Homo sapiens: one gene and its partners. The protein of the gene in region 6 purifies or fractionates together with the protein of the main gene of each other region. This does not show direct contact. Each region holds a gene or a part of one and is shown on either strand. Other genes may lie near its edges.

Region 1 (4,278 bases), on a different chromosome or scaffold from region 6:
GCAGAACTTACATAGATATTAATACTATATCACTGTTTTTTTAAATAATATTTTATTGAAGAAAATAAAAATCATTATGATAGTGTTAAAGAAATTTTGCCAAAAAAAAATTTCTCCACTCCAGTGTGCTAATGTATCTAATTGTGCCCTTCAGGTCTTGGTTCATAGACACACATTCATTTCTATTTTATAGTCACTATATATGCATACCTAATTATTCTTAATTTAGGATTGAGAGCTTTTCTTTAAAATTCTTAAAAAGATGACACTTATGACAAGTTTTTAACACTTTGGAATACATAGAGATAATATCTTCAATATGTAGACTATATATTTGATTAACATATTAATAAATTATGAGGAACATATATTTAAAAACTAGTTAGCCAAAATGTTAATACAGGCTGAGTATCCCTTATCCAAAATGCTTAGAATGAGAAATGTTTTGAATTTCAGATTTATTTGGATTTTGGAATATTTGCATATATAAATAATGACATATCTTGAGGCCAAGACCCAAGTCTAAACACAAAATTTATATATGTTTCATATATACCTTATACATAGCCTGAAGGTAAATTTATATAATATTTTTAATAATTTTGTGCATGAAACTAATCTTAAGTACTTGCGGAATTCTCTATGGCATCATGTTGGTGCCCAAAAAGTTTCAGATTTTGAAGCATTTTAGATTTTGGATTTTTGGATTAGGGATGTTCAACCTGTACTCTCCCTTCCCTCCCCTTCCCTTCCCTTCCCTTCCCTTCCCTCCCCTCTTCTCCCCTCCCCTCCCGTCCCCTCCTCTCTCTCTCTCTATATATAATATATATTGAGATATATATATGTTTTTTGTTTGTTTGTTTTTTGAGACAGAGTTTTGCTCTTGTCACCCAGGCTGGAGTGCAATGACACAATCTCAGCTCACTGCAGCCTCCGTCTCCCAAGTTCAAGCAGTTCTCCTGCCTCAACCTCCCGAGTAGCTGAGATTACAGGCGGGAGCCACCATGCCCGGCTAATTTTTGTTTTTGTTTTTTTTGTAGAGACGGGTTTCATCATGTTGGCCAGGCTGGTCTTGAACTCCTGACCTCAGGTGATCCACCCGCCTCGGCCTCCCAAAGTGCCGTGATTACAAGCATGAGCCACTGCACACGGCCCTATCTCTCTGTATTATATGACACATTTGGTCAGCTTCTGATTATCCAAGGGTTTGCTTTTTGGTATTTTTGAAACTTATTTTTTTTAGAATGTTGATTTTATAATGAAGTAAATAAACTTATTTAAGATTGAATTGGAAAGATAATGGAACTTCACAATCAGTTCATTTTGTTATAATTTCTTAGCTCCCTTGTAATGACAAGAAGAAAAAGTAACTGAAAAGAAACATGGATATCTTATTTCTATTTACCCATTAATTAGACAGTATAGTTGCTATTGCAGTTTTTGCTATACCAGTCCTTACTGTTTTCTTGAAATGTCTTAGATATGTCTGAATTTGTTCACCATGCACAAATGTGCAACTTTAATTTTGCCTCCCAAAGATAGCTTTGATTTTTTTTTTATGCTAGATTTGTTTTCTTTGCTAACAAATGTTTACATTTTATCTTTTCCAGGAATGGGATATGGAGATAGAACAAGCACATTTTGTGGCACTCCTGAATTTCTTGCCCCAGAAGTATTAACAGAAACTTCTTATACAAGGGCTGTAGATTGGTGGGGCCTTGGCGTGCTTATATATGAAATGCTTGTTGGTGAGGTAAGCAGTGTGAAATAGGTAAGAGAACAGAGGAAGGATGATTGAAATAATAAAGCATGTCATTTATAAAACCACCTAATACTGTCTTCAGTATGAGTGGAATTTAAGTTTTATAAATATTTATAGTATACTAGTAGTCAGCTATCTTTCTGTAATACCTTCAATAAAGATTTTTATGTGGTTTGTGGAATGCACTATCAGTGCTTTGAAAATAGTTCCTTGTATTTCAGTATTGTACTTTTATTATGTTTTCTGATTTTAAGACATAGTCATTTTATAGGGAATGGAATAACAGAAAGACTAATAAAAGGAATGTACTCTGTACCTGTAAAGAAAAGCCCACTATAGATTGGTCAGAAATAAATGTTACCTTCGACTTCCTCCAGACTTCCGTCTGAGCAACACACTCTGCATCCTTGCTTCACCGGGAAACTACTGAAGTTCCTGGGGAAGCAAAGTAGAATTTCGTAAGAACAAAATGGATGGAGAGAGGAGAAAACCTATGGTAGCTGTGAAGGCCCTGATGCCATGTATGTCAAATTGATATCATCCGATGGCCATGAATTTATTGTAAAAACAGAACGTACATTAACATCAGCACGATAAAAGCCATGTTGAGTGGCCCAGGTCAATTTGCTGAGAATGAAACCAATGAGGTCAATTTGAGAGAGATACCTTCACATGTGCTATCAAAAGTATTCGCTACACCAACAGCTCCACCGAGATTCCTGAATTCCCAGTTGCACCTGAAGTTGCTATAGAACTGCTGATGGCTGTGAACTTCCTAGATTGTTAAATAAAATATAATTTTAAAAAAATGAAAGAAGTGTTACCTTAAAAAATGGTAGAGTTGAAAAAATTCGCATTTTTTCCTACTGTTTTCTGTAGATTAACTTAAATTTCTGAGGATAATTGAGTTGTACATAGAAATTATTACTATTAGGAAACAGTGAGTTATGTTAAGGCAATAATAGGAGACTAATAATTTATTATGTTATAAATTGTTAGAAATGTTGAATTGGGATGAAATTGGGAAAGAGTAAATCTTTTAATAAGTAATTGAAGATTACTTGAAGGGACTTGAACTGGAGATGCAAGAAAAATTATTTTAAGGGATTGGTTCATTATTCTGCAGTTTCCCCATGCCAGCAACCTCCCTTGTACACTTGTAAGTTTGAAGAAGTTAGTGCTGAATGAACAAATTATCAAATTGAATATCAGAAATTTCTAAAGTTTTGTTCTATGCTTGTCATTTATTGGCACTTACCCCAAACAAATGGTTTTAGTTTCGCCGGATGGATAACCCCTTTTGGTATGTCAATTTGAAGTGGATTCCTTGGAAAAGGAGGAGAAGTATGGCTAATTAAAATTTATCATGTGCTAAGCACTGTACTGTATGCCTTAAATATTAGTTCATTTAATTTTGCAACAGCCTTTAATAAGCTCAGTACTGATCTTCTGCCCATTTTCGGAGGTGTAAATAGAGACACAAAGAGATTAATGACTTGCTTAAAGTCACACAGCTCTCATATGGTGGAGCTGGAATTTTAACCTTGTCACTCTGGCTCCAGAGCATATCTAAAGCATTATGCTTTGCTGCTCCAGGACAGGATCTTCAATTCATCCAGCCTTGTTTCTGTTCTTAAGACTAGTGGTCCAGATCTGAATTTTTCACCTCTATTTAGAAAAGCTGTTGTGCAGTGTTTAGGTTGGAAAGATTTATTTTAGCTCCAGTCCACAGTGGCTTTTACTTTCTGAGAGTGCCAGAAGTTCTCATAAAATAGTTAATCTGCTGTAAGCTCTGGCATACTTGAACTCCTCCCCACCCCCTTCCTTTATTTTAACAGTAACATTTTGGAGGGTTTTTTTGGTTTTGTTTCATGTAGTATTCAAGTAAGTATGAGATTTATGAGATTCAATTATGTGCTTGCTTAAAATTTACTCTCCATATTAGAGATGACATGTGCAAAATATGAGTTTATTACAAAATACTGTAGAATTAATCCAGTTGAATCTACTCCCTCCTATTATAAAGCCACTGGAGGGTTTGGCAGAAAACAAGGAAGCTCCTGTTTCATGTTTTTTAAAAGAGCTAATTGATTGAGCTCTTAATTACCTAGAAGATAAAAGACAGTGGATCTGGCTATTTCTTCACAGTTGTTTCTTGCAATTTCTCTTTAGTATCTCCACAAGAGGGTAGCTGGGAAAAGAACTAAACTTAAAACTCATCAGTCTACTTCATAATTTTATAGCATTAGTGAAATGCTAGTGATAACTCCTTTTTAACTATGATGAAAGTAAGGTGTGGCTAAAGTTTATGTCAGATTTCTCTATTATTACAAATAATTGTAAACTCACCGGATATATTATACATGTTCAGATTTGTATACTTCTACTAGTTTTGATTACTGGAAAGACTCCAGGAATAAACAAACATCGCAAGTCCCCTTTTTCCTGTCTCAGATGGGAGTGAAGATACCAGAGAGATTGAACAGAATGCTGGACATGGTTTTAGATACTGTCAG
Region 2 (3,844 bases), on a different chromosome or scaffold from region 6:
GCGCCCAGCCCTTCCCCGCAGGAGGGCTCAGGGGACCCCACGCTACTGGAATCCACCCCGAGTCACAGCTACAGATCATTACCCACAAGTGGGGTCAAAGGCCTCTTTACGGGCGAGAAAGCTGCGGCTCAGCAGAAAGCCAAGCACTTTGGGAGGGAGGAGCTGAGGTGCCTTATTACTCCGAACAGACGCGAAAACAAGCCAGGGCCCGCGCGGGTAGACCTGGTAGGCGGGTGGGCGGGGCGAGGGCCACTTCCGGGGTGTGGAACCCTGTCGAGCCCCGCCCCGAGCCCCGCCCCGAGCCCCGCCCCGGGCCCTGTGGTCCCGGGATGAGCTCTCCGCGCAGCCAGGCTCGCTCCAGTGCCCGCCCAGCGCTGACTTCATTGGCTGCCTCCCCAGTCCCGCCCCCAGGGGGGCCCTGCTGATGTTCGTAGCCAATCCGCAGGCGCGGTGGCAGCTGCGGGTCGCGGGTCGCGGGTCGCGAGTCGCCGGTCGCCGGTCGCGGCGGAGCCTGGGCGCTGAGGTACCGGGGCCTGGACGAGGGGGCCGCGGTCTGGCTAGGGAGCCGCGCGGGCTCATGGCGGTACGGCGACCTGGCCTCGCTCGAGGGTTCGCGGGCGGGCCGCCCCTCCCCGGGCTCCTAGGGGGACGCTCCAGCTGGAGGGGCGGTGACCGCGACTGTCGTGGGCTGGCCCCAGGTGGCTAGGGTTGGGGGTCAGAGGTCAGAGGTTCTGCCCTCTGGAATGTTAGGGCCCCGCCCGTGGAGCCGTGGAGCCCTGGGGCCGGGCCGCTCCCCATTTTCCTGTCAGCTCTTGTTGAGGTGCCCCATCTTTTCGCAGAAGGGACTTGGAGGGAAGCGGGCCTGGAGCTGCTGCCGCCGCCCCTGAGCTCGGACGCGAAGGCTGGCCCCGTCCCCGGGCTGCCGCCGTGGTCCTGCAGGTGACCCTCAACCCCCCGAGGACCGCCGGCCGCCTCCCGCCTCCGGGCAGGCTCAGGAGCGCGCGGAGCGGGGTGTGGGCCTGTGACCCTCGAAGGCGTGGGCGGGGAGTAGGGGGTCGAGCTGGGGCCGCAGGCTGTCCCCGTACGGGCTGCTCCCCTGTGGCTCCGAAGCCACCTTTTTCTGAAGTTGTCAGCCCGCGTGTTTGAGATTTCGTTTCTGGAATCTCACGCGAACAATCTGGAGAGAGGAACAGGGGTCTTGCGGCTTTGGCTGTTGACTCAAGGGGAAAATAAAAACCAGACAATGGGGATGTAATGAATGCAAAGTGACCCGTGAGCAAACTGGACGCTTTTCTCCGGCTGACAGGCATGAGTTCTCCCCGTAGCTTGCCCCACATACTGTGAGTTAAACTGTGTCAAAGTAAGAGCAGTTTAGCCCCACAGTTCTGAGCAAGAGTCCTTAGCGCTGACCTTCTTAGTGAAGATACTTTGCAATGTGTAAAATATTGAATACAAAATTATTGTGCAAAGCTTCTGAGTTGAAGATTCTGAGTGCGCGGAGGCTGGCGGCAGCCCTTACTTGCCATTGCAAGGATCTCAACTTACTACTCTGAGAGCAAAAGTAGTTGTTTCTTTACAGATGTGGGTTTAGGGGAGACAGCTATGGATGAGGAACAGGGGCGGGGTTCGTTTTCTGCACAAAACGTATGCGATTAGAAAAAACAAAGGGTTTTTATTCTGCCTATCTTCTTCCATCTCAGCCAGCATAAGCACATTCTTTTTTTTCTGTTGATGATGTATGCTGAGTATTTGCAGCGATTAGGAAAAGGAATACTCTCTAACAAGACACTTCTCTTTAAACGAGGCGGTGGAGGGATGATTATGTCTTCTGTGGAATTAACCCTCCGGCTTGATTTTCAGTGAAGAAAATGAGGCACGAGGAATTGTTAACCAAGACCTTCCAAGGCCCAGCTGTTGTGTGTGGGACTCCGACCAGCCACGTATACATGTTTAAGAATGGCAGTGGGGACTCGGGGGACTCTTCTGAAGAAGAGTCTCACCGTGTGGTTTTGCGGCCCCGGGGCAAGGAGCGCCACAAGAGCGGTGTCCACCAGCCTCCCCAGGCGGGAGCAGGTGACGTGGTGCTGCTGCAGCGGGAGCTGGCCCAGGAGGACAGCCTCAACAAGCTGGCGCTGCAGTATGGCTGCAAAGTAAGACACCCCTCAGGGGCCCTGCCCCGCTCCGTTTCAAGGAACACGGGGAACTCACTGCAGGGTGGGTGCCCTTGCCGCCCTTCTTAACCCTGCCAGGCCGTCAGGAGAGGCCTGCTGTAGCAGCCAAGGACTCCCCTATTTAGCCAGAATTGGAATGCAGGTGGGAGTACCTTTAGTTCCCAACCCTGGCCCCCAAAGAGGGAGGGTTAGCGCATTTCTTTCTCTGCAGGGAACTTCTCCTTTTCCTGTTTTCTCCACACTGAAATTCTGAAACCTTTTTTCTTCTTTCGAGCACATTTTATTTTAGACCTAATGGGGCTGGAGATACCAGGCAGAATTTAATTCCGGATTTCTATGGTATGCTTGCTTTTCTCGCTGCTCTTATTTTTCTGAACCTTTCTTGGTGGTAGCTTACTTGACTTTTGGTAAAGTTTTACCTTCTCTCGTTTAGAACTGCATGGTCTTTTGTATGCTGTGTATCTATATAACCCTGTTTTTCTCTAATTATGTTTTCAGCATTCAGAGTGATTAACAATGGCAAAGTAAGTAGGAAAGTATTTCTAGAATTGCTGCATTTTCTCCTAGATTGCAACTGTTTCACTTTGCTAACACTGTGCTACAGATTTGTATGGCCTTCTCTAGGGGTATATAAGCTACTTAATTTAAGAAATCTCTTTCTCCTACAAGTGTCTTATCTAACAAGGTCCAAATGTCTGAAACATGTTGTGTGGGGTGTTGCGGTCTTTCAGGGAAATAAACAGGTTGGTCTCCGGGGACACATAGTGGTCTTTAAATTGTACTGACAATTATATTTGGCTCCGATAAGCAGCTTCTGCAGGCATACTGTGTGGCTTACAGAACATGGGCTGAAAAATGAAGCCTGTCCTACAAAGACCGGAATAGATGGAGTAGGCTTCTTGGTATGGTGATGTCTAAATCCGTAAAGAATATATAAAGCCTTTGATAAGTGATCAGTTTTCCTATTTGAAGTAAATAAATTTGCTCTTAATTTATTGAAGGCAGAGACAGAAAGATCTCAAGGGTCTCATGCATTAGATTCAGGACATAGTGAATTAAAAATGTCCCCTACCCCAAATCAGTTACAATAACAGCAGTTGCTGAATAATAATGGAAATGATTGATTTGATTGAGATCTGTTGGCTGTATTCACTTTCTAGTTTAAGTGGACTTAAGTGTTAAAAGTTTGGAGTTCATCTCTGATGCTTTTGGAAAGTTTTCAAACATTAGTTTGAGGGAGGGGTTACCCTTTGACTTACATTCTCCCTGCTTCTTAAATCTTCGTGTTTGATTATGAGAGGAGTTTGTCATGAACTTTGTTACTTGATAAAACTCACAGCATTATTCCTTTTTCCTGACAGTTAAGTACAGTAACTGTAAGTCACTTTTATTTAATAAGTTTACATGCCCCACAGTGTTTCTGGGAAAGAAAATGCCGAGGGCATATCTGTCAACTTTATTACAGGTAAACTGGATTTTGAGTGTGTCTGCAGAGCTGGCTGAGGCTGTGTGTTTGGTGAATGCTAACATCTGGCAGCCACTGAGTTCTGGCATGAGGGGGAAGGCAGGCAGATGGGGGCACTATTGCCTCAAAAGTGAAAGGTGGAAAAGGCTGCAACATTCCTTTCAGTGCCATGGTGGTTTCGCCCAAAGCGATTTGTTGCAGTCACACT
Region 3 (4,278 bases), on a different chromosome or scaffold from region 6:
AAGGTGCGTCCTGCCAACACCCTGGGCCCCAGGTCCCATCCCTGCTGTCAGTGCCTATCCGGGGCCATATCCTCCCCCAGGCCCCCCAAAGGAAGGGCTGGGCCAGATAGGTTGACGCAGCTCCCACCCGCAGAACTTGGCGAGCTACGACGTCTGCAGCATCCTCCTGGGCACCTCGACGCTGCTGGTGTGGGTGGGCGTGATCCGCTACCTGACCTTCTTCCACAACTACAATGTGAGTTTTGCACATGCAGCTGGGCCTTCCACATGGTTACTCCACACCCTCCAAATAAATCCCTACACACGCAGCCCTCACCAGCCCCGGCCAATGGCCCCTTGCAAGCCTCCTCCTCCTACCTGCCCACACCAGATATATCTGTCACTGCACCTGCGCGGGGCCCCGGGAGCCTGCTCCTTTGTGCCCACCCAGCTGAGTCTAGCCGTGCGTTGCCCTCGGACCCCCTCAGACGTGGCCACGCCCCCTCTAGGCACCCACTGGCTCCCATGACCACACCGGCTGTGCCCTCGGCAAGGCCCCGCCCCTCCCACCCCCATCTGGGTGCCCACAGCTGACCTGAGTTGTGGCCACACCCTCAACGAGGCTCCCTCTGCCCCAACCCAGATCCTCATCGCCACACTGCGGGTGGCCCTGCCCAGCGTCATGCGCTTCTGCTGCTGCGTGGCTGTCATCTACCTGGGCTACTGCTTCTGTGGCTGGATCGTGCTGGGGCCCTATCATGTGAAGGTACATCTAACCCCTGATGTCCCTGACATTGACCCTGTGACCTTGTCATTGACACTGTGACCCCCAGATGACCCCTTGGTGACTGCTGGGAGTCTGTCCACTGTCCCCTGTGGTCCTTGGTGACCCTGACACTGACCCTGTGCCATTATTGTTGTCACAGTTGTTGATGACCCTATTTCGACCTGAATTACTCCCCTCCTGCTCTATCTACCCAGACCCTAGGTCGGCCCTGTGGCCCTGTCATTGACCCGTGGTCCCGGCCATTCACATGGGACCCCAGCCTGGGACCTGGCCATTCACATAGTGACCCCAGCCTGGGACCCGGCCATTCACGTGGGACCCCAGCCTGGGTCCCGGCCATTCACGTGGGACCCCAGCCTGGGACCCGGCCATTCACAGGGGCCCTAGCCTGGAACCCGACCATTCACATGGTGACCGCAGCCCGGGACCCGGCCATTCATGTGGGGCCCCAGCCACCAGCTCCTAGCCATTTGCATGGGACCCCAGCCTGACCCCAGCCCCCGGTTCCTGGCCATGCCTTGGCTCCCTCTGACCCCGCCGCCCCTCTGGCAGTTCCGCTCACTCTCCATGGTGTCTGAGTGCCTGTTCTCGCTCATCAATGGGGACGACATGTTTGTGACGTTCGCCGCCATGCAGGCGCAGCAGGGCCGCAGCAGCCTGGTGTGGCTCTTCTCCCAGCTCTACCTTTACTCCTTCATCAGCCTCTTCATCTACATGGTGCTCAGCCTCTTCATCGCGCTCATCACCGGCGCCTACGACACCATCAAGGTCAGCCGCATGCACCCAGCCCTGAGCTCGGGCTCTGGGTGCCCTGGAGTCTGCCATGAGGGGGTCTTGGGGACACCGCAGGGTGAACAGAGAAGACCCAGGAGAGAATATGGGAGACTCTATGAAACCAAAAAGAGGGTGGTTCAGAACTGGGGGGCGCAGGGGGATGTCAAGGTGGGCTTGGGCCAGGAGGGGGCCTGAGTCAGTCTTTGCCAACAGGGCAACCGAGTCATAGAGTTTATTTATTTATTTGTTTATTTGAGACGGAGTCTTGCTCTGTCACCCAGGGTGGAGTGCAGTGGTGCGATCTTGACTCACTGCAACCTCCACCTCCCGGGTTCAAGCAATTCTGTCTCAGCCTCCTGAGTAGCTGGGACTACAGGCACACGCCACCACGTCCAGCTAATTTTTGTATTTTTAGTAGAGATGGCATTTCACCGCATTGGTCAGGCTGGTCTCAAACTCCTGGCCTCAGGAGATCTACTGCCTTGGCCTCCCAAAGTGTTGGGATTACAGGCGTGAGCCACCACGCCCGGCCTATTTTATTTTATTATTAAAGTATTGTTCTTTATTTTATTAGAGACAAGGGTCTCACTGTGTTACCCAGGCTGGTTTCAAACTCCTGAGGTCAAGTGATCCTCCCACTTTGGCCTCCCAAAGTGCTGGGATTACAGGCGTAAGCCACCACACCCAGCCTATTATTATTATTTTTTTTTTGAAATGGAATCTTACCCTGTGGCCCAGGCTGGAGTGCAATGGCATGATCTCGGCTCACTGCAACCTCCACCTTCTGAGTTGAAGCGATCCTTGTGCCTCAGCCTCCTGAGTAGCTGGGATTACTTGCACGTGCCACCACACCTGGCTAATTTTTGTATTTTTACTAGAGATGGGGTTTCACCACGTTGGCCAGGCTGGTCTCGAACTCCTGACCTCAGGTGATCCACCTGCCTTGGCCTCCCAAGGTGCTGGGATTTCAGGCATGAGCCACTGAACCCAGCTAAGTCATACAGTTTCAATGACCTTGTCATTGACCCTGGGACGTTGCCATTAACATGGTGATCCTCAGCTGGCCCCATTCCTATGGCGGACCTCTAAAAACCCAACCCTGACCCCAGCCCCCAGCCATGCCCCCGACTCCCTCTGACCCTGCCCAAGGTTAGCTTCTTTATTTATTTATTTTTTTTGAGACGGAGTCTCGCTGTGTCACCCAGGCTGGAGTGCAGTGGTGCAATCTCGGCTCACTGCAACCTCTGCCTCCCGGGTTCAAGCGATTCTCCTGCCTCAGCCTACTGAGTAGCTGGGATTATAGGCACACGCCACCATGCCTGGCTAATTTTTGTATTTTTAGTAGAGATGGGGTTTCACCATGTTGACCAGGCTGGTCTCAAACTCCTGACCTTGTGATCCGCCCACCTCAGGCTCCCAAAGTGCTGGGATTACGGGCGTGAGCCACTGTGCCCGGCCCAGGTTAGCTTCTGAGCAGTAAAACTGGGCTCAACCCAGGGCTGTCTGATTCCAGAAGCCGTGCTCCTAACCCCTCTGTCCTCAGTTTAGTAGGGTGGCTGGGAACAGTGGTTTCCCTGCAAGCTGCAAGGGTCAGGGGACAGAGCAGGATGCGGAAGTGGCAGGTAGATAGGATTCTTTCAGCAGATATATCTAAGGGCCAAGATCTGTGCTGGGTTCTGGGCATGGAGGAAAATCAGGTGTGCATGATCCGTCCAAGGCCTGTGGGCAAGGATGGCACAGGAACAGACATCCCATGACCAATGACCTACTTGTAACAGGTATGAAGGAAGAGTGGAAGGTTGCAGAGGGACCCCTGCTTTAGATTGGTATGACAGGAGATCCAGGAGAGCTTCTAGAATGTTCTATCCATCACTAGTCTCTAGCCCTATGCAGCTATTTAAATTTTGATTTTAATTCCGGCTGGGCACGGTGACTCACGCCTGTAATCCCAGCCCTTTGGGAGGCCGAGGGGGGGTGGGGGTGGATCACCTGAGGTTAGGAGTTCGAGACCAGCCTGGCCAACATGGCAAAACCCCATCTCTACTAAAAATACAAAAAATTAGCGGACGTGGTGGCAGGCACCTGTAATCCCAGCTACTCCGGAGGCTGAGGCAGTAGAATTGCTTGAACCTGGGACGTAGAGGTTGCAGTGAGCCGAGATCAAGCCACTGCACTCCAACGTGGGCGAGAGACCGAGACTCTGCTTCAAAGACAAAACAACAATTTTTTAAAAATTTTAATTCAAATGAAGTACAATTGCAAATTTAGCCTCTGACTTGCACCATCCTGTATCCAGTGCTCAAAAGCCAGTGTGGCTGGTGGCTGCCATATTGGACAGCATAGATATTGAATACTTCCATCGCCTCTAGACTGAAGAGATGGGAGCCCAGGGGCAGTGCACCGAGGGGAAGGAATAGCTAAAGCAAAGGTCTAGTAGCCTGAAAAAACTTGGAGAAAAGATGGCCCCTCCATGAGGCCGAGTGAGAGGAAGGAAGCCTTGGCTGGGACCCTGCCACATCCAATGTCACCGGCAGATGGGTACACCCCCTTTTCCCCATGCATGGATTCAGCTGTCCCACAGACACATTGACTCAGGCCCTTGGAACTACTTCCTGTCTTGCCTTAGCACGTAGACATCACACACATGCATCCACTCAGGTGGGCAGTCTCAGGCCCTGCTCCCACTGCTGTGCTCAGCGTGCATCCAGCTCACTCAATAGATGGTTTCTGAGCATCGA
Region 4 (4,278 bases), on a different chromosome or scaffold from region 6:
CTTGCCTGTAATCCCAGCACTTTGGGAGGCCGAGGTGGGCAGATCACCTGAGGTCAGGAGTTCGAGACCAGCCTGGCCAACATGGTGAAACTCCATTTCTACTAAAAATACAAAAATTGGCTGGGCGTGGTGGCACATGTGCACACGTCTGTAATCCCAGCTACTCAGGAGGCCGAGGTAGGAGAATCGCTTGAACCCAGGAGGCAGAGGTTGCAGTGAGCCAAGATCATCTCAAAAAAGAAAAAAAAGAAAGAATGTGTTATTTGGCTGGGCACAGTGGCTCATGCCTGTAATTCCAGCACTTTGGGAGGCCAAGGCAGGAGGACTGCTTGAGCCCAGAAGTTCAAGACCAGCCTGAGCAACATAGTGAGACTCTGTCTCAACAACAACAACAACAAAAAGACAGGTGTGGTGGTGCACACCTGTAGTCCCAGCTACTTGGGAGGCTGAGGTGGGAGGATTGCTTGAGCTCAGGAGGTCAAGGCTGCAGTTAGCCCCTGCTCACACCAAAAACAATGTTATTTAATTTCTAAGTGTCTGGAGATCTGTTATTGATTTTTAGTTTCTTTCTTTCAATTGTAGTTAGAGAACACATTCTGATTTCATTTTTTCTTTAAATTTTCATTATTTCTTAAAATTTTAAATAGAGATGTGGTCTCACTATGCTGCCCAGGTAGGTCTCAAATTCCTGGACTCAATCCTCCCACCTCAACCTCCCAAAGTGCTGGGATAACAGGCTTGAGCCACTGTGGTTGGCCTGATTTCAAATCTTTTACATTTTTTAAGTTTTATTTTATATTCCAGGATATGGCCTATTTGGGTGAATGTTCCATGGGCTTGAAAAAAATGTTCATTCTGTTGTTGCTGTGTGCAGTGTTCTATAAATTTCAGATAGCTTTTGTTAATTAATGGTGTTAAGTTCTTCTATATCCTAGCTGACACTAGCTGATTTTCTGTTTAGCTGTTCGTTCTTTTGTTTTGTTTTGTTTTTGAGATGGAGTTTTGCTTTTGTTGAATATACCTGTTAGAAGATCTGGATTTCAGGCTTTCCAGCACCCCATCTGGGATATATGGGAACCTGGGAACTCACTGTCATGTCTTTCCTCAAGCCCCAATATCCCTAGATAGTCTGCCTTCTTCTTTCCACCTTTCAGAGTCTTCCTATGTTTGCTCTATTATGTCCATAGTTGTTTGTGTGTGTGTTTAAGTTTTTAAGTGAGAACACTAGCATGGAATAGGGCTATTCCATCTTGGTCTGAACCAGTAGTTAGCACCAAGGCTTATTATTTGATTTTGTATTTTTTGAGATGGAGTCTTGCTCAGTCGCCCAGGCTAGAGTGCAGTGGCGTGATCTTGGCTCACTGCAACCTCCGCCTCCTGGGACTACAGGCGCCCATCACCATGACTGGCCAATTTTCATATTTTTAGTAGAGACACGGTTTTACCATGTTGCTCAGGCTGGTCTCGAACTCCTGACCTCAAGTGATCTTCCCGCCTTGGCCTCCCCAAGTGCTGGGATTACAGGTGTGAGTCACCGTGCCTGGCCCCCATTATTTATTATTCCCCTATACAAATCTATTCTTGAGTTTTTCAATCATTGAGTCCCCAAGTGTGTGACCTATCCTTAAGTCACTGTATCTCTTTCAGGAGCACTCTTAATTTAACATCAGGATGTCACAATAAAGTGCTTTTTTTTTTGAGACGGAGTCTCGCTGTGTCGCCCAGGCTGGAGTACAGTGGCGCGATCTCGGCTCACTGCAAGCTCCACCTCCCGAGTTCACGCCATTCTCCTGTCTCAGCCTCCCAACTAGCTGGGACTACACATGCCCACCACCACACCTGGCTATTTTTTTTGTATTTTTTAGTAGAGATGGGGTTTCACCGTGTTAGCCAGGATGGCTGTAAGATATAGTGTAAATCAACAGCCCAAGGACAGAGACACAGAAAGGGAATTAATACTGTGCCTTGCAAGGGGAACGATTTCTCTCACTCACCAGTCCCCAAAGGGAGCCTTCTGAGGTAGCAACAATGGTAGCAGCTCTCGGGGTGTTGTACATCAGAGCTAGTTCTCCAAAACTGCCACGGTTGTCATATTGACCAACAGAGCGGGTTTGATTATCTTTTGTTACTAAAATGTCATAAGTTCCCCTAGAAGAATGACAAAGAATAATTTAATTAGTTACTTCTGATAATAAATGTTAAGAACTGGCAGGTACATATAATAGAAAATGTTGTTTTAAGAGATTTCCAATGGAACTTTGCTAGTATATAAAAAAAACATATTTTTGTATTTTGACTTTGTACTGTGTCCTATAACCTTGCTAAACTCACTTATTAATTCTAGTAGCCTTTTTGTGGCATTCTTGGAATTTTCTTTTCTTTTTTTTTTTTTTTTTTTTTTGAGACGGAGTCTCGCTCTGTCACCCAGGCTGGAGTGCAGGGGCGGTATCTCAGCTCACTGCAAGCTCCACCTCCTGGGCTCACGCCATTCTCCTGCCTCAGCCTCCCGAGTAGCTGGGACTACAGGCACGCGCCACCAGGCCCAGATAATTTTTTTGTATTTTTAGACAGGGTTTCACCATGTTAGCAGGATGGTCTCGATCTCCTGGCTTCGTGATCCGCCCGCCTCAGCCTCCTAAAGTGCTGGGATTACAGGTGTGAGCCACCACACCCGGCTAGAATTTTCTACATAGAGGATCATGTCACCTGAAACAAAGTTTTAATACTTCCTTTCCAATCTATATGCCCCTTCCTTTTTTTCCCCCCATCTTTAACTTAAACATATATATATATACACACACACACATATATACATACACATAAATATATATATACACATATATACATTTTTTGACATATATATTTTTTTGAGACAGGGTCTTGCTCTGTCACCCAGGCTGGAGTGCAGAGGCACAATCATGGCTCATTGCAGCCTCCACCTCCTGGCCCCAAGCAATCCTCTCACCTCAGCCCCCTAGCAATCCTCTCACCTCAGCCCCGAGTAGCTGTGACCACAGACGTGTGCCACCACACCTGGCTAATATTTTATTTTTGTAGAGATGGGGTCTCACTATGTTGCCCAAGCTGGTCTGGAACTCCTGGGCTCAAGCAATCCTCCTGTCTCAGCCTCCCAAAGTACTGGGATTAAAGGCATGAGCCACCATGCCCGGCCTAATTTTTTTTCTTTTATTAATATATAATATTTTACATAATTTATGGCGTACATGTGAGTGTTTGTTGCATGCATAGAATGGGTAATGATTAAGTCAGGGTAACTGGGGTATCCATCACCTTGGATATATGTCCTTTCTATGTGTCAGTATCATTTCATGTCCTCTCTTCTATTAATAGTTACTTTGAAATATGCTAAATATTGTCACCCAAGTATAGTCACCTTATCATGCTATAAAACATTAGAACTTGCCAGGTGCAGTGGCTCACACCTGTAATCTCAGCACTTTAGGAAGCTAAACTGGGAGGGTTGCTTGAGCCCAGGAGTTTGAGACAATCCTGGGCAACGTATGGAGACTTCTCTCCACAAAAAGGAAAAAAAAAAGACATTAAAATTTATTTCTTCTATCTAACTGTGTGTTTGTACCCATTAGCCAACTTTTCTTCATCCACCCACCACCCTTCTCAGTTTCTGGTATATATCATTCTATTCTCTATGTCTACGATATCAATGTTCTTTAGCATTCACATGTGAGCAAGAACATGTGGTATTTGTCTTCCTGTGCCTATCTTATTTACCTTAATATAGCAACCTCCATGTGGCTACAAATGACATGACTTCTTTCTTTTTTATGGTCAAATGGTATTTCATTGTGTACTATGCCACACTTTCTTTCTTTCTTCCTTTTTTCCTTGCCTCCCTCCCTCCCTCTCTTCCTTTCTTTGCCTTATTGCATTGACTATAACCTCCAGTACAATATTAAGTGGAAGTGGTGAAAGCAAACATCCTTGCCTTATTCTGAGTTGTAAGAAAAAACAATTTTTCACCATTAAATATGATGTTAGCTGTAGGTTTTTAATAAATGCCTTTAGTCTAGTTAGGGAAAGTTATTTTTGTTGCTAGTTTACTGAGCATTTTCATCACAAAAAGATGTTGAATTTTGTCAAATGCTTTGCTGTAGGTATTGATATGAATGCATGGGTTTTCTTTCATAGTCTGTTAAAACAAAGATTAAAACAAAGCAGGTCGGGCACGGTGGCTCAAGCCTATAATCCCAGCGCTTTGGGAGGCCAAGGTGGGTGGATCACCTGAGGTCAGGAGTTCGA
Region 5 (4,278 bases), on a different chromosome or scaffold from region 6:
AGCACGTGGCACTCAAAGGCCCAGCCCCGCGGCTGCTTCTCTCTACCCCGCCTTGGCTACAATCACTGCCAGCCCATTTGTGAAAACCACCTGCCTCAGGGGAGAGAGGGCAGGGAAGAACACGGCTGGCAGGGGGGCAATGGCATACTTCATCCTGCCTGCTCTGCCCAGCCACCTCCTGGCTATGGCTGCACCTCTAGGACTCACGCCTACCCTCCCCACAAAAAAGCCACTCTAGTCACCTCAGGGAACCAAAGAGGGCAAAAGAGTGATGTCTGGGACAAGTGAAGTCTCCCTTGTCTGCCCAAACCCTGATCTCCCTGGATGGTCTTCCCCTGACCCCAGTCCTGCAAGTACCCACATCAATCGCGGAGATGGGATCCTGATCCTCCAGCCCATCCTCAGGCGGGGCTGGGCCAAGGCCTTCACCGCAGAACCTTGCTGCTTTCCCAGGTCAGGAGGCCTCCCAGAGCTCAGGTCCCCCAGCCCCACCGGGGTCTAGGCGATGATCCCTGCTCCTGCAGCCTTCTCGAGGCTGTGCTTCTACCTGCCTCCTGCCCACATTTAGCTTTTCCCTCTCTGTCAGCTCCTTTCTGACCTACACACAGGGAGAAGTTGCTTTGGTGTGAGAAAGGAAGACGAGGGCCCTTGGGGGCATGTGGAGATTAAGGAGCCTCGGCCAGATGTGGTGGCTCACAGCAGTAATTCCAGCACTTTGAGAGGCTGAGCAGGAGGATCACTAGAAGTCAGGAGTTCAAGACCAGCCTGGCCAACACGGTGAAACCCCGTCTCTAAAAACACAAAAATTAGCCAGGCATGTGGTGGGCACCTGTAATCCCAGCTACTCGGGAGGCTGAGGCAGGAGAATCGCTGAGCTTGGAAGGCAGAGGTTGCAATGAGCTGAGATCGCGTCACTGCACTCCAGCCTGGGGCGACAGAGTGAGACTCCATCTCAAAATGAAGAAAGAGAAAAAAAAGGCAGATTAAGGAGTCTCCATTACTCAGCCATGCAGTGGCTGAATGCATGGGTCAGAGTTTAGGAGCTTAAACTACGTCTTAAATCCAGATCTCACTGCTCAGCTTGAGTCTGAAGAAGATAAAACTCAAGTACAGAGGCAGATATTTGGGAATCTTTCCAGAGACGTATCCCCTAAAGCTGCAAATGGACCAGGACTCAGGGAACTAGAGAGGGACAGAGCTGGAAGGGTCAACCAAGAAAGACAAGGAAGAATCCATGGGAGAGCGAAGAACCATGGACTTGGAGAAGAACCAGGAGTGGAAGGAAGAGGAGAAATCCTGAGTTGGGAAATCCTAAGCGGGCGTTTCCTTGCTGAGGGGTTGTAAGGAAGTCAGAGGTGAACCACCCTGGAGGTAGCAATGGGGGTGGGATTGTGAGTGGCCTCTGGAAAGGCAGTTTCAGTTGAAAGGGCCAAGGGAACTGCAGCCCGGCTGCCATGAGAACCAGGAACACAAGAGGAGATGAGAGGAAGAGCAAGACAGAGGAGGCCCACGTGTCCAGCCTGCCTGCTTAGCTAAAGCCTCTGTGTGCCAAACCTGTGGCCCAAAATGGCTCCTCAGCTACCTCAAACAGTGCCAGGTTCCTGTCATAGTAGTCAATTCCTCTGGAAGCCTCCAAGGGGGAAAGAAAAGGGCTGCTCTCTCTGTGGTTGCCATGTCCTGTGAAGAGAGAGGGACAATCAGGGCCTGCTTCCTGAGCCCCCCAGCCTGGGCCCCTTCCCAGAAAGCCAGTCCCCAAATCATTTCTGTGGAGCACTTTGGAGCTGCAGTGTCACCAGGTTGCAACTCAGTTTTCACATGGCACCGTGCCAATGCTCTTGAAGGCCCAGGGATAGCCAGAGAGAGGCCAGTGACCAAAACCTGGGACATCATTCCCTCCAGTGAAGGGAATCCAGGTGAGGGCGCAGGCGCCCTAGCACAAGCACGTATGGACACTGAGGGACGGGGCCTGCAGAGGGGCGGGGCCAGCGTTTGACCCGCCCCCAGATCGCCTCCACGCCCCAGTCCCTTTCCCGGTCTTTCCGGAGTACCCAATGTGCAGGATGCCAAGGGTTCGGTGTCCTCAGGGACCGCCCAGGCAGTGCCCTCCAGATAGACGAAGCCGCACACAGCACCTTCGGCTGCCATGGCCCAAAGGTGGCCGGCTGGCTACCCCACCATGCACTGCGCGGGGGGCGTCCTGCAGGGCAGCCCGGGGCATGCCGGGAGGTGGGGCAAGCCCCAGGCCGTGGAGAGCGGAAGTGGATTCCAGGAGCCTTCTAGGGTTGCCTAAGAAAGTCGGACGGGTGGGTGTCGGACTGAGCAGGGAGAAAAATGGGAGCTGGGACTGCTGGCAGGAGCAACACAATGGCCCCCTTGCCCGCAGATCCCGCCGCTTGCCCCAGGCAAACCTCCGCCTACAGCCCTAGGCTGATGAGCCAGTGCCCCAGCTCTGAGAAATCTCGCCAAAAGGAGTGAAATGCTCCTTTTCAATAAGCCTGCCTCAACTCCCAAAGCTCGACTGTTTTTTCTGGCCTCCTATCATTCATTCTTCCCTGTTTTCCAACTCTTGTCCCTTATGAGTCTCGGTGGGTGCCATTCCCAGCTTCCCACCAAGCAGAACGCCAAGCACTCGTTTTCTAGGTGCTGAGTGTTCCCTCCACCCCAGCTACCCTCGCAGCCCCGGCCCTGGCTCAAGGCCTCACAGCAAATGGAAAGCACACATCTTGGTGTTGGATGGCAGCAGTATGTAGTTCTGACATGAGAAGGACTGGCATGGTGTCCAGTGATGGAGATGGCAACAGAACTGTCACCACCAGCCCAGGCTAGTGGTGTGATTGGGCCATGCACTGGCCATGCCCGCCAACCTTTTCTGTTTACATAGGCCACAATTCATTTTTCTTGACTGCAGCTGAGAATGCTGATTGAGGCATCCTCCTGTATCTGATACATCTCTTGCTATCAGCATGAGGCTTCAATTGCTTTCTCTGAGCCAACAACCACTCAGCAGGTGCTGTGCTGTGGATTCTTTATCCCCCAAGGAAACTAACAAATCAAGTGTGCCCATGACAGTTTCTGGGGCAAAGTCAGTTCTTCCTTCCCACAGCATGTGAAAGTGGCACACCTGCTACACCCAGCAACCTGGACTAGCTAAGTGAGCCAAGCAGCTCAGCCCCACATTCACATAGGTCAATGCCAATGGCACAGTGGACAAAGGCAGCCAGAGGTCAAGACAGTCCACCGTGTCATGTTAAAGCCAGGCGGGGTCATGTCGGACACTCTATGATATCTGCTGTACCCTCCATGCTTGTTCAGGATCAGAAGGAGTCCCAAGAAAAATCTGAAAACCCAGTAACACTCTGCCTCTTACATTAATGACATTAATGGCTCTTCAGTGAAAAGCCTTTGAAAATTACTTTTGGATTTTTGTGACAAAAAAAGTGTCTCCCTTTGATAAATCAGGTGCTTCATTTTGTCAGAAAATGCCAGTTATACAGCTCGTCTTACTTCTCTTTCTGCTTTGGCTGCCAGGAATCTCCAAGCTAAATTTACTCTTTAGATAAAGTCACCATCTGTCTCACCTGAGTGCTTGCCCCCTTCCTCTGCATGGTTTTCAATCTTCCTGAGAGTAACAATCACTTGGGGAGACACTTTTGTTGGCTATTTCTTCTGATTCTTTTGTGGAAGTAGGCTGGAAATCAATTATAATTTATTCTAAACTCATGTACTACAGCCTGCCCCATCACTGTTGCCTGGTCTTTCTGGGTAGACTGTATTGCTATCCAGAAAATATACAGCTGAGCACACAGCAGCTCCCCACAAATGCCTGTAAATGGTCCTCTAAGACCTAGCCTATCCCTTGTCCCTTCAGCTATCACTCTAGGATGGCTCGGGGCCCTTCCAAAAGTTGTCTCTAGTTCTCACAGCAACATTCCAGTAGAGAGCATTTACTACCTTTTAGGGACAAGGAGAGTGAAGCTCAAAGATGTTCAGAGGCAAGGTCACCCAGGGAGAAGGCCACATCTGGGTCCCAGGGTCCATCAGAGCCCTGTAGGGGCGGAGCTGCAGGTTCCGTTCCTACTACAGACTCCAGTCCATCTATGCAGCACAATCTTTAAAAATAGAGAAGAGTGCTGCAATTTGGCCAGGGTACGCATACCTAGGCCTCTGGGCATTCAGACTGCGGCAGACTGGCTTGGATTCCCAGACCTTCCCCCGTGTGACCCAGGGAGACATGCTTACTCCCTGTGCGGCCTTGGTTTCCTCTTCTATGAAGTGGAG
Region 6 (4,278 bases):
ATATCTTTGAAAGAGAGGTTCAGAGAGGAGCAGGAGATAATTTTCAAGCATTTGAAGTGTATAGTTTCTTTTAGGTATTCATTTTTCTGTTTACATTTTCAGGTTTGGGGCTTTAGCCCCTTGGAGAAAACAGGGCCACATAGCTGCCTTTCTATCAAGTCTCCCTACAAAACTGAGAGGCTCTGGGAAACTCAGCCTGTGACCCCAGCGTGGGTGAAGATAGGATCAAGATGGCCATGTGGCAGGGTAAGAAATTAGCACTTATTCTTCTAACTGGTTTTTCCTCCTACTCTATTCTCTACCCTCACCCAACCGTTCCCCACCCAGCCAATGGCAGGCAGCCAGCTGTTCTTTAATTTAACCCTTTGTCTTTGCAGGGACAAAACACATTAGTTTAAAAAGAAGCTGCTGCTAGCTATAAGTTTAAATTATTTAAAAGTGGGGTTGTAGGAGAAGTAGGAAAATGCCATGCCAGCAGCATTTAAAAGAACTCCCTTCATTTAAATAAGTGATCATTGGGGGTTATATGCCAGGAGACAGGATATTTTTTCCCATTTGTGTTTTTCATTTGTTTCTGGCAAATTTCTATCATAAGATTCCCCACCATAAGGTTGGGGAGACAGATGTCACTGCCTCTCCAGCTTCATCTTCCCAATAAAAACTTTGTGATGTATGCAGTTTGAAAGAGCATATTTAATGTTACAGTGTTTATATTTGATACAATATAAACATTGAGAAGGAAAACGCCTGTTTTAATAATATGAACTACCTGAGAGCAAAGCTCAGTAGTATCTTAGCTGATGTATTACATCTCTCATGAACTTGTGAATTCCTACCACATACAAAGTTATGTTTTATTTTGAGCGGAGTTGCGGTTTGTGCCCTTTGGAGGGTTTAGGAGTCTCCACGGGTATGTGGGATTTTTATTGTTATCAAAAGTGAGTGTGGGTTTAAGAAATGATAGACAAACACTACCAAAATTGGCCTGTGACCCACAAAAAGTTAAAGACCACTTAAATGGAGTGGAATGAAATAGCTTGAATATCTAGAAATATTCAGCAGGTTGGTTAGTTGGTGGTCTAATGTATCTTTTAAAAATGTTTCATTGTGTTGGTTGTGACTTTATGTAGGCACACAAATGTAACAAGTAGTTTCCATGTATAAAGATTATCAATGAGAAGACATTTATGGAAACGGGATTTGGCCTGTATGCTTCCTTTGACTCACACAATGGGCATTTATCAAGAGCAGTTTGGATATTCTTGCTTAAATCCTGAGACATTATTTCATTCAACAAACGAAATACAGAGATGAATAAGTTGCAGGATGCTAGAAGATTCCTTGTCATCTAAAGACAGACATACAAACAAATAATTTTGCCATGTTGAATAAGTGTTAGAATAGAGAGGTACAAAAAGCAAGGGAAGCCCCGAGAAAAGCTTGATGAAGTCTGAGTTTTGAGCTGGTCTAAAAAAATGAGTAGGAGCAAATGAGAGAATTGCATTCTGGGCAGACAGAGCAGCACTGTTTGGGAAGTTCCAAGTTGCTCTGTTTGCCTCATGTGAGATGTGTAGGGGCGCGACCTCAGATGAAGCAGGGAAGGTAGTTGGAGGCCAGATAATAAAGAGCCTTGTATGTTCTAGGAAGGATTTTACACTTTATCCTGAAGACAAAGATTCTAAACAGGGAAGTAACATAATCAGATTTTGTTTTAGAAAGATTACTTTGGCAGCAGTGCTGAGCTGGAAATGATGAAAACTGGGAGTCAGTCAGGAGGTTTCTGGAATAGTTTAGGGGAGAGATGGTAAGGGTCTGAGCAGAAGCAGGGGCAGTAAGGTTAGAATGGGATTCTAGAATGTTCTGTGACTGGATGTGGCAAGAAATGGGCCTGGATTAACTACCAGCTTGGGTGCCTGGGGGCCACTGGTGCCATTCTCTGAGATGGGGAGCATGGGAGGCAGCTGATGGGCATGGGGGTGGTGCACTGGATTTGGATGACCTGTTTGGGTTGAGACACCTATGTACTGTCAGGTCAATGTTTCAAAGACAGTTTTGAAAGTACAGAACTGATATTGGCACAGATGGGGATCTAAAGTTTTGTTCCTAATGATGCATAAAGAGCTTGTATTTTTTTCTCTGTAGTTAATGGAAATGTCATTACTAGTTAATGATTTATTTTACAATAAAAACATTTTAATGTTTAACAACTCTTAATCAAAATGTCATATTTTCATAGTAAATAATGTATTTTGCAAGCCCAGGCCCTGAAATCAGATGTGCTTAAAATTACATTGAAGTGAAACCTCATTTTTCCAGCATTAGTGAAGAGGGGAGTATTCTATATAAGTAAGCTCTTTGGATAACTGCAGCTTATCCTTTGTTTTGGCTAACCTCTGAAGTAACCAGCAAAGTACGATGATAGTTTGGAAGCAGTGTGGTATGATAGTTAAATGTGTGGGTCTGAGTTCTACTCCATTGGTTCTGTCACTTGGTAGCTACGAGGCCTTGGGCAAGTAACTTAATCTCTCTGTGTGGAAGTTTTCTCCTTTACAAAATGGAGATAGTAATATAACTCATCCCATTGCTGAGTATATAGCCAAAAGAAAGGAAATCAGTATTGAAGAGAGAGCTGCACTCCCATGTATATTGCAGCACTACTCACAATAGCCAAGATAGGAAATCAACTTAAGTGTCCATCACTGGATGAATGGATAAAAAACATGTGTTACATATATTCAACAAAATATTATTCAGCCATAAAAAGAATGAAATCCTGTCATTTGCAGCAACATGGATGGAACTGGAAGTCATTATGTTAAGTAAAATAAGCCAGGCACAGAAAGATAAATACTGCATATTCTCACTCATATGTGGGAGTTAAAAAATGTGGATCTCATGAAGGTAGAAAGTCGAATGGTGGTTTCCAGAGGCTGGGAAGGGAAGGAGTTTGGGGAATGAAGAGAAGTGGGTTAATGGTTATAAACATACAGCTAGAGAGAAGGAAAAAGTTTTAGTATTCAATAGTACAGTAGGGAGACTACAGTTAACAATAATTATATATTTCAAAATGGCTTGAAGTAAAAAATTGGAATGTTTCTAACACAAAGAAAAGATAAATGTTAGAGGTGATGAATATCCCAGTTACCCTGATTTGATCATTACACATTGTATACGTGTATCAAAATATCACATATACCCCCCAAATATGTACAGCTATTATATATCAATTTTTGAAAAGGGAGAAAAGTAGAACACCTGATAGGCTTGGTGTGAAGAGAAATTAAGCTAATATATGCAGAGCACTTGGAACATAGTAAATGCCATATAAGTGTATGCCATTATTATAATAGTAAAACATTTAGAATATTGTGTAGCATATAATAAGTGCTCAGTAAAATTTAGCAATAGCCGTTATTACTACTATCACTATTATTTTCTTATAACCTGGGGTGGGACTGGGACCTTGTTCTGTGGAGGTAATTTTAGGTTGTCCTTGGAAGCCCTGTCCTGTGGTTGTCTGTTTGGGTCTTTAAGTAGAAGTTTAGACTTGAAAAGATTCTTAGAAAACATCTAGCAGCCGGGCGCGGTGGCTCACGCCTGTAATCCCAGCACTTTGTGAGGCCGAGGCGGGCGGATCACGAGGTCAGGAGATCGAGACCATCCTGGCTAACACGGTGAAACCCCGCCTCTACTAAATATACAAAAAGTTAGTCGGGCATGGTGGCGGGTGCCTGTAGTCCCAGCTACTCGGGAGGCTGAGGCAGGAGAATGGCGTGAACCCAGGAGGCGGAGCTTGCAGTGAGCCGAGATCGTGCCACTGCCCTCCAGCCTGGGCGACAGAGCCAGACTCCATCTCAAAAAACAACAACAAACATCTAGCTCAATTCCTAGAGGTTAAGTGATATGCCCAACGTCAAACAGGTAGTAGTTGATCCTAGAGCTAGTATTAAAATCCAGGTCACCTAATTCCCTATTCCAGTATTCTTTCCGTGGGCTCATGGAAGAGGCAATGTGTGAGTCTGTTCTCAGCTCAAGGAAGCTTCTGAGTCAGTCTGTAGAGCTTGTTGAGGAACCCTAAGGGCTACAGGAGCCCAAATCTCCTTAGGTTCTTGGCTCATTGCTGTCTGGTTCCTCCATGGAGAATTTGATCTGAATTCCCATACCTCTTAAATGGGGCCAACATTATTTTGACTTCACTTAATGGAGCCCTCTAATATATTTTCTGGCCACTTTAAACAGTGTACTGAGCATAATTTAATATTTTTGATAACTCAGGGT
Region 7 (2,971 bases), on a different chromosome or scaffold from region 6:
GACAATATTTGTAAGAATTTCTGTGAATATGCAGCTTCAGGAATCGGGAGACTCATGACTACTGCTATTAGCCCTAAGACTGCATGTATAAACCAAGAGACTTTAAGTGAAGCTTTTAACCTCCTTTCCATCTCTGTATATCTGAAATCCCAAACACAAGCTGCTGGATGCTGAAGATCCTGTATTGCTACTCATAAGTAGTAGCAGGTATAAAACAATGAGAAATGACCCTATTTGGAAATTTCAGGATTATCTCTAGGTTAGTATTGCTGCTTTTGGCACCCATAAAATCATTAAGGGGTCCAATCTGGCCTATGTCGTTTACCTAATAAATTGGTAGCATTAAGAGTCCAAAGGACAGAGTTCATGAAATTCTAAGAATGGCCTCTTTATCAGTGGTTAAAGGTTGAATATTTGCTTGAAGAAGATGACAGTAACATAACTCTAATTTCACAAGACCTGCGAGTTCTTCAGAATAGTAGACATGATATCAGCCCAGCTTCCAGGGCCATTAAAAAGCCAGTTTGTCATTGTGGTGTTTGTTCTTTCTCTCCTCAGACATTAACCTCTCTGGCCAAGCTAATGAAAGAATGCTGGTATCAAAATCCATCCGCAAGACTCACAGCACTGCGTATCAAAAAGACTTTGACCAAAATTGATAATTCCCTCGACAAATTGAAAACTGACTGTTGACATTTTCATAGTGTCAAGAAGGAAGATTTGACGTTGTTGTCATTGTCCAGCTGGGACCTAATGCTGGCCTGACTGGTTGTCAGAATGGAATCCATCTGTCTCCCTCCCCAAATGGCTGCTTTGACAAGGCAGACGTCGTACCCAGCCATGTGTTGGGGAGACATCAAAACCACCCTAACCTCGCTCGATGACTGTGAACTGGGCATTTCACGAACTGTTCACACTGCAGAGACTAATGTTGGACAGACACTGTTGCAAAGGTAGGGACTGGAGGAACACAGAGAAATCCTAAAAGAGATCTGGGCATTAAGTCAGTGGCTTTGCATAGCTTTCACAAGTCTCCTAGACACTCCCCACGGGAAACTCAAGGAGGTGGTGAATTTTTAATCAGCAATATTGCCTGTGCTTCTCTTCTTTATTGCACTAGGAATTCTTTGCATTCCTTACTTGCACTGTTACTCTTAATTTTAAAGACCCAACTTGCCAAAATGTTGGCTGCGTACTCCACTGGTCTGTCTTTGGATAATAGGAATTCAATTTGGCAAAACAAAATGTAATGTCAGACTTTGCTGCATTTTACACATGTGCTGATGTTTACAATGATGCCGAACATTAGGAATTGTTTATACACAACTTTGCAAATTATTTATTACTTGTGCACTTAGTAGTTTTTACAAAACTGCTTTGTGCATATGTTAAAGCTTATTTTTATGTGGTCTTATGATTTTATTACAGAAATGTTTTTAACACTATACTCTAAAATGGACATTTTCTTTTATTATCAGTTAAAATCACATTTTAAGTGCTTCACATTTGTATGTGTGTAGACTGTAACTTTTTTTCAGTTCATATGCAGAACGTATTTAGCCATTACCCACGTGACACCACCGAATATATTACTGATTTAGAAGCAAAGATTTCAGTAGAATTTTAGTCCTGAACGCTACGGGGAAAATGCATTTTCTTCAGAATTATCCATTACGTGCATTTAAACTCTGCCAGAAAAAAATAACTATTTTGTTTTAATCTACTTTTTGTATTTAGTAGTTATTTGTATAAATTAAATAAACTGTTTTCAAGTCAAACAGTGAAATTGTTTTTCAAAATATAAAAAAGATCTGTGTAACATTATGCATTTTCTTATGGGAGCAATAGAAGCACAAAACTAATTTGTAAATTGAATTTGCTTTTTAAATCTACTCATGAACTTATGTAAGACATCATAAGGATGTCTTACAGCTTGAATTTGGTATAAGAAAATTTGTTTCTTCCTTTGGCTGTGATTTTTTTGTTTTTTTGTGTTTTTTTTTCAGTCAGTTTCTCCAGCTGTAAGGTGAGGGTAACAAATCTCTCTGACCTGCCTTTCTCACAGGGGGGTGTTGTGAGTGTAAACGGGAAGGAGGATGTTAAAGCATTTTGTTGAGTGAAAGGTTCCACGTGAGTGTAAAGTGGTCTTATGCATCCGCCCTTGCTGCTTGGGAGAGTCCGTTCTCGGTTTTTTCACTGCTTGTACACAAGATTAAAAGGTAGAGTTAACAGTAGCCCAATAAGAGAAGAGGTGTGAACATGCCGGAATGTCTTCCAGAGGTAAGTTAATAACTTCATTAGGATGTATTTACTTGGAGGGTATATATTAGAATGACATTTTTTTAAATTACAAATCAAAATTTTAATTTGTGTTACAGATAACATAAAACTTACTAATTTTTAAGTGTATGTTAAGTGCATTCACCTTGTGCTACTATCACCATCATCTATCCACAGAACTCACGTGAAACTGAAACTATATCTGTCAAACAGTAACTCCCCATTCCTCCCTCCTTGGTCCCTGGCAACCATTATTCTACTCTGTGTCTCTGTGAGTTTGGTTACTCTAAGCACCTCATGGAATCATGTAGTATTTGTCCTTTTGTGAGACTGGTTTATTTTACTTAACATTATATCTTCAAGGTTCATTCATGTTGTAGCATGTGTTTGAATTTCCTTCCTTTTTCAGGCTGAATAATACTCCACATTTGTATATACAAACTGTTTATCCATCCATCCACTGAGGGACACTTGAATTGCTTCCATCTTTTGGCTTTTGTGAATAATGCCACCATGAACATGAGTGTGCAAATGTCTGAGTTCTTGCTTTCTATTCTCTTGGGTATATGCCCAGAAATGGAATGGCATTACATTTAACTTTTATTAAAATATTACATATATCAAAGTATACATATATAAAAGTGTACAACCTGATGAATTTTTATGAATTTATTACATCCATGGAAGCAGC

The links.
Region 1: the proteins of CLCN5 (region 6) and PKN2 fractionate together in Homo sapiens (co-fractionation; one large-scale study listed by BioGRID). This does not show direct contact.
Region 2: the proteins of CLCN5 (region 6) and LYSMD4 fractionate together in Homo sapiens (co-fractionation; one large-scale study listed by BioGRID). This does not show direct contact.
Region 3: the proteins of CLCN5 (region 6) and MCOLN1 fractionate together in Homo sapiens (co-fractionation; one large-scale study listed by BioGRID). This does not show direct contact.
Region 4: the proteins of CLCN5 (region 6) and PRKAR2A fractionate together in Homo sapiens (co-fractionation; one large-scale study listed by BioGRID). This does not show direct contact.
Region 5: the proteins of CLCN5 (region 6) and SLC12A4 fractionate together in Homo sapiens (co-fractionation; one large-scale study listed by BioGRID). This does not show direct contact.
Region 7: the proteins of CLCN5 (region 6) and ACVR1 purify together in Homo sapiens (co-immunoprecipitation; one large-scale study listed by IntAct). This does not show direct contact.

What each region holds. Positions count from the first base shown.
Region 1 is NC_000001.11:88,826,871-88,831,148, forward strand, and holds part of PKN2 (serine/threonine-protein kinase N2), read left to right. Parts: intron 1-1,610; coding exon 1,611-1,753; intron 1,754-4,278. UniProt on the Homo sapiens protein: PKC-related serine/threonine-protein kinase and Rho/Rac effector protein that participates in specific signal transduction responses in the cell.
Region 2 is NC_000015.10:99,730,024-99,733,867, reverse strand, and holds the start of LYSMD4 (lysM and putative peptidoglycan-binding domain-containing protein 4), read left to right. Parts: upstream 1-1,860; 5' UTR 1,861-1,868; coding exon 1,869-2,150; exon of another isoform or gene 2,151-2,445; coding exon of another isoform or gene 2,446-2,510; exon of another isoform or gene 2,511-2,659; coding exon of another isoform or gene 2,660-2,695; exon of another isoform or gene 2,696-3,073; intron 3,074-3,844.
Region 3 is NC_000019.10:7,528,968-7,533,245, forward strand, and holds part of MCOLN1 (mucolipin-1), read left to right. Parts: coding exon 1-3; intron 4-133; coding exon 134-235; intron 236-622; coding exon 623-745; intron 746-1,318; coding exon 1,319-1,534; intron 1,535-4,278. UniProt on the Homo sapiens protein: Nonselective cation channel probably playing a role in the regulation of membrane trafficking events and of metal homeostasis. Acts as a Ca(2+)-permeable cation channel with inwardly rectifying activity.
Region 4 is NC_000003.12:48,770,961-48,775,238, forward strand, and holds part of PRKAR2A (cAMP-dependent protein kinase type II-alpha regulatory subunit), read right to left. Parts: intron 2,149-4,278; coding exon 1,995-2,148; intron 1-1,994. UniProt on the Homo sapiens protein: Regulatory subunit of the cAMP-dependent protein kinases involved in cAMP signaling in cells. Type II regulatory chains mediate membrane association by binding to anchoring proteins, including the MAP2 kinase.
Region 5 is NC_000016.10:67,961,883-67,966,160, forward strand, and holds part of SLC12A4 (solute carrier family 12 member 4), read right to left. Parts: intron 2,171-4,278; exon of another isoform or gene 2,146-2,170; coding exon of another isoform or gene 2,049-2,145; intron 1,678-2,048; coding exon 1,583-1,677; intron 1-1,582. UniProt on the Homo sapiens protein: Mediates electroneutral potassium-chloride cotransport when activated by cell swelling. May contribute to cell volume homeostasis in single cells. May be involved in the regulation of basolateral Cl(-) exit in NaCl absorbing epithelia.
Region 6 is NC_000023.11:49,925,069-49,929,346, forward strand, and holds part of CLCN5 (H(+)/Cl(-) exchange transporter 5), read left to right. Parts: intron 1-102; 5' UTR 103-230; coding exon 231-246; intron 247-4,278. UniProt on the Homo sapiens protein: Proton-coupled chloride transporter. Functions as antiport system and exchanges chloride ions against protons. Important for normal acidification of the endosome lumen. May play an important role in renal tubular function.
Region 7 is NC_000002.12:157,735,253-157,738,223, reverse strand, and holds the end of ACVR1 (activin receptor type-1 precursor), read left to right. Parts: intron 1-558; coding exon 559-693; 3' UTR 694-1,778; downstream 1,779-2,971. UniProt on the Homo sapiens protein: Bone morphogenetic protein (BMP) type I receptor that is involved in a wide variety of biological processes, including bone, heart, cartilage, nervous, and reproductive system development and regulation.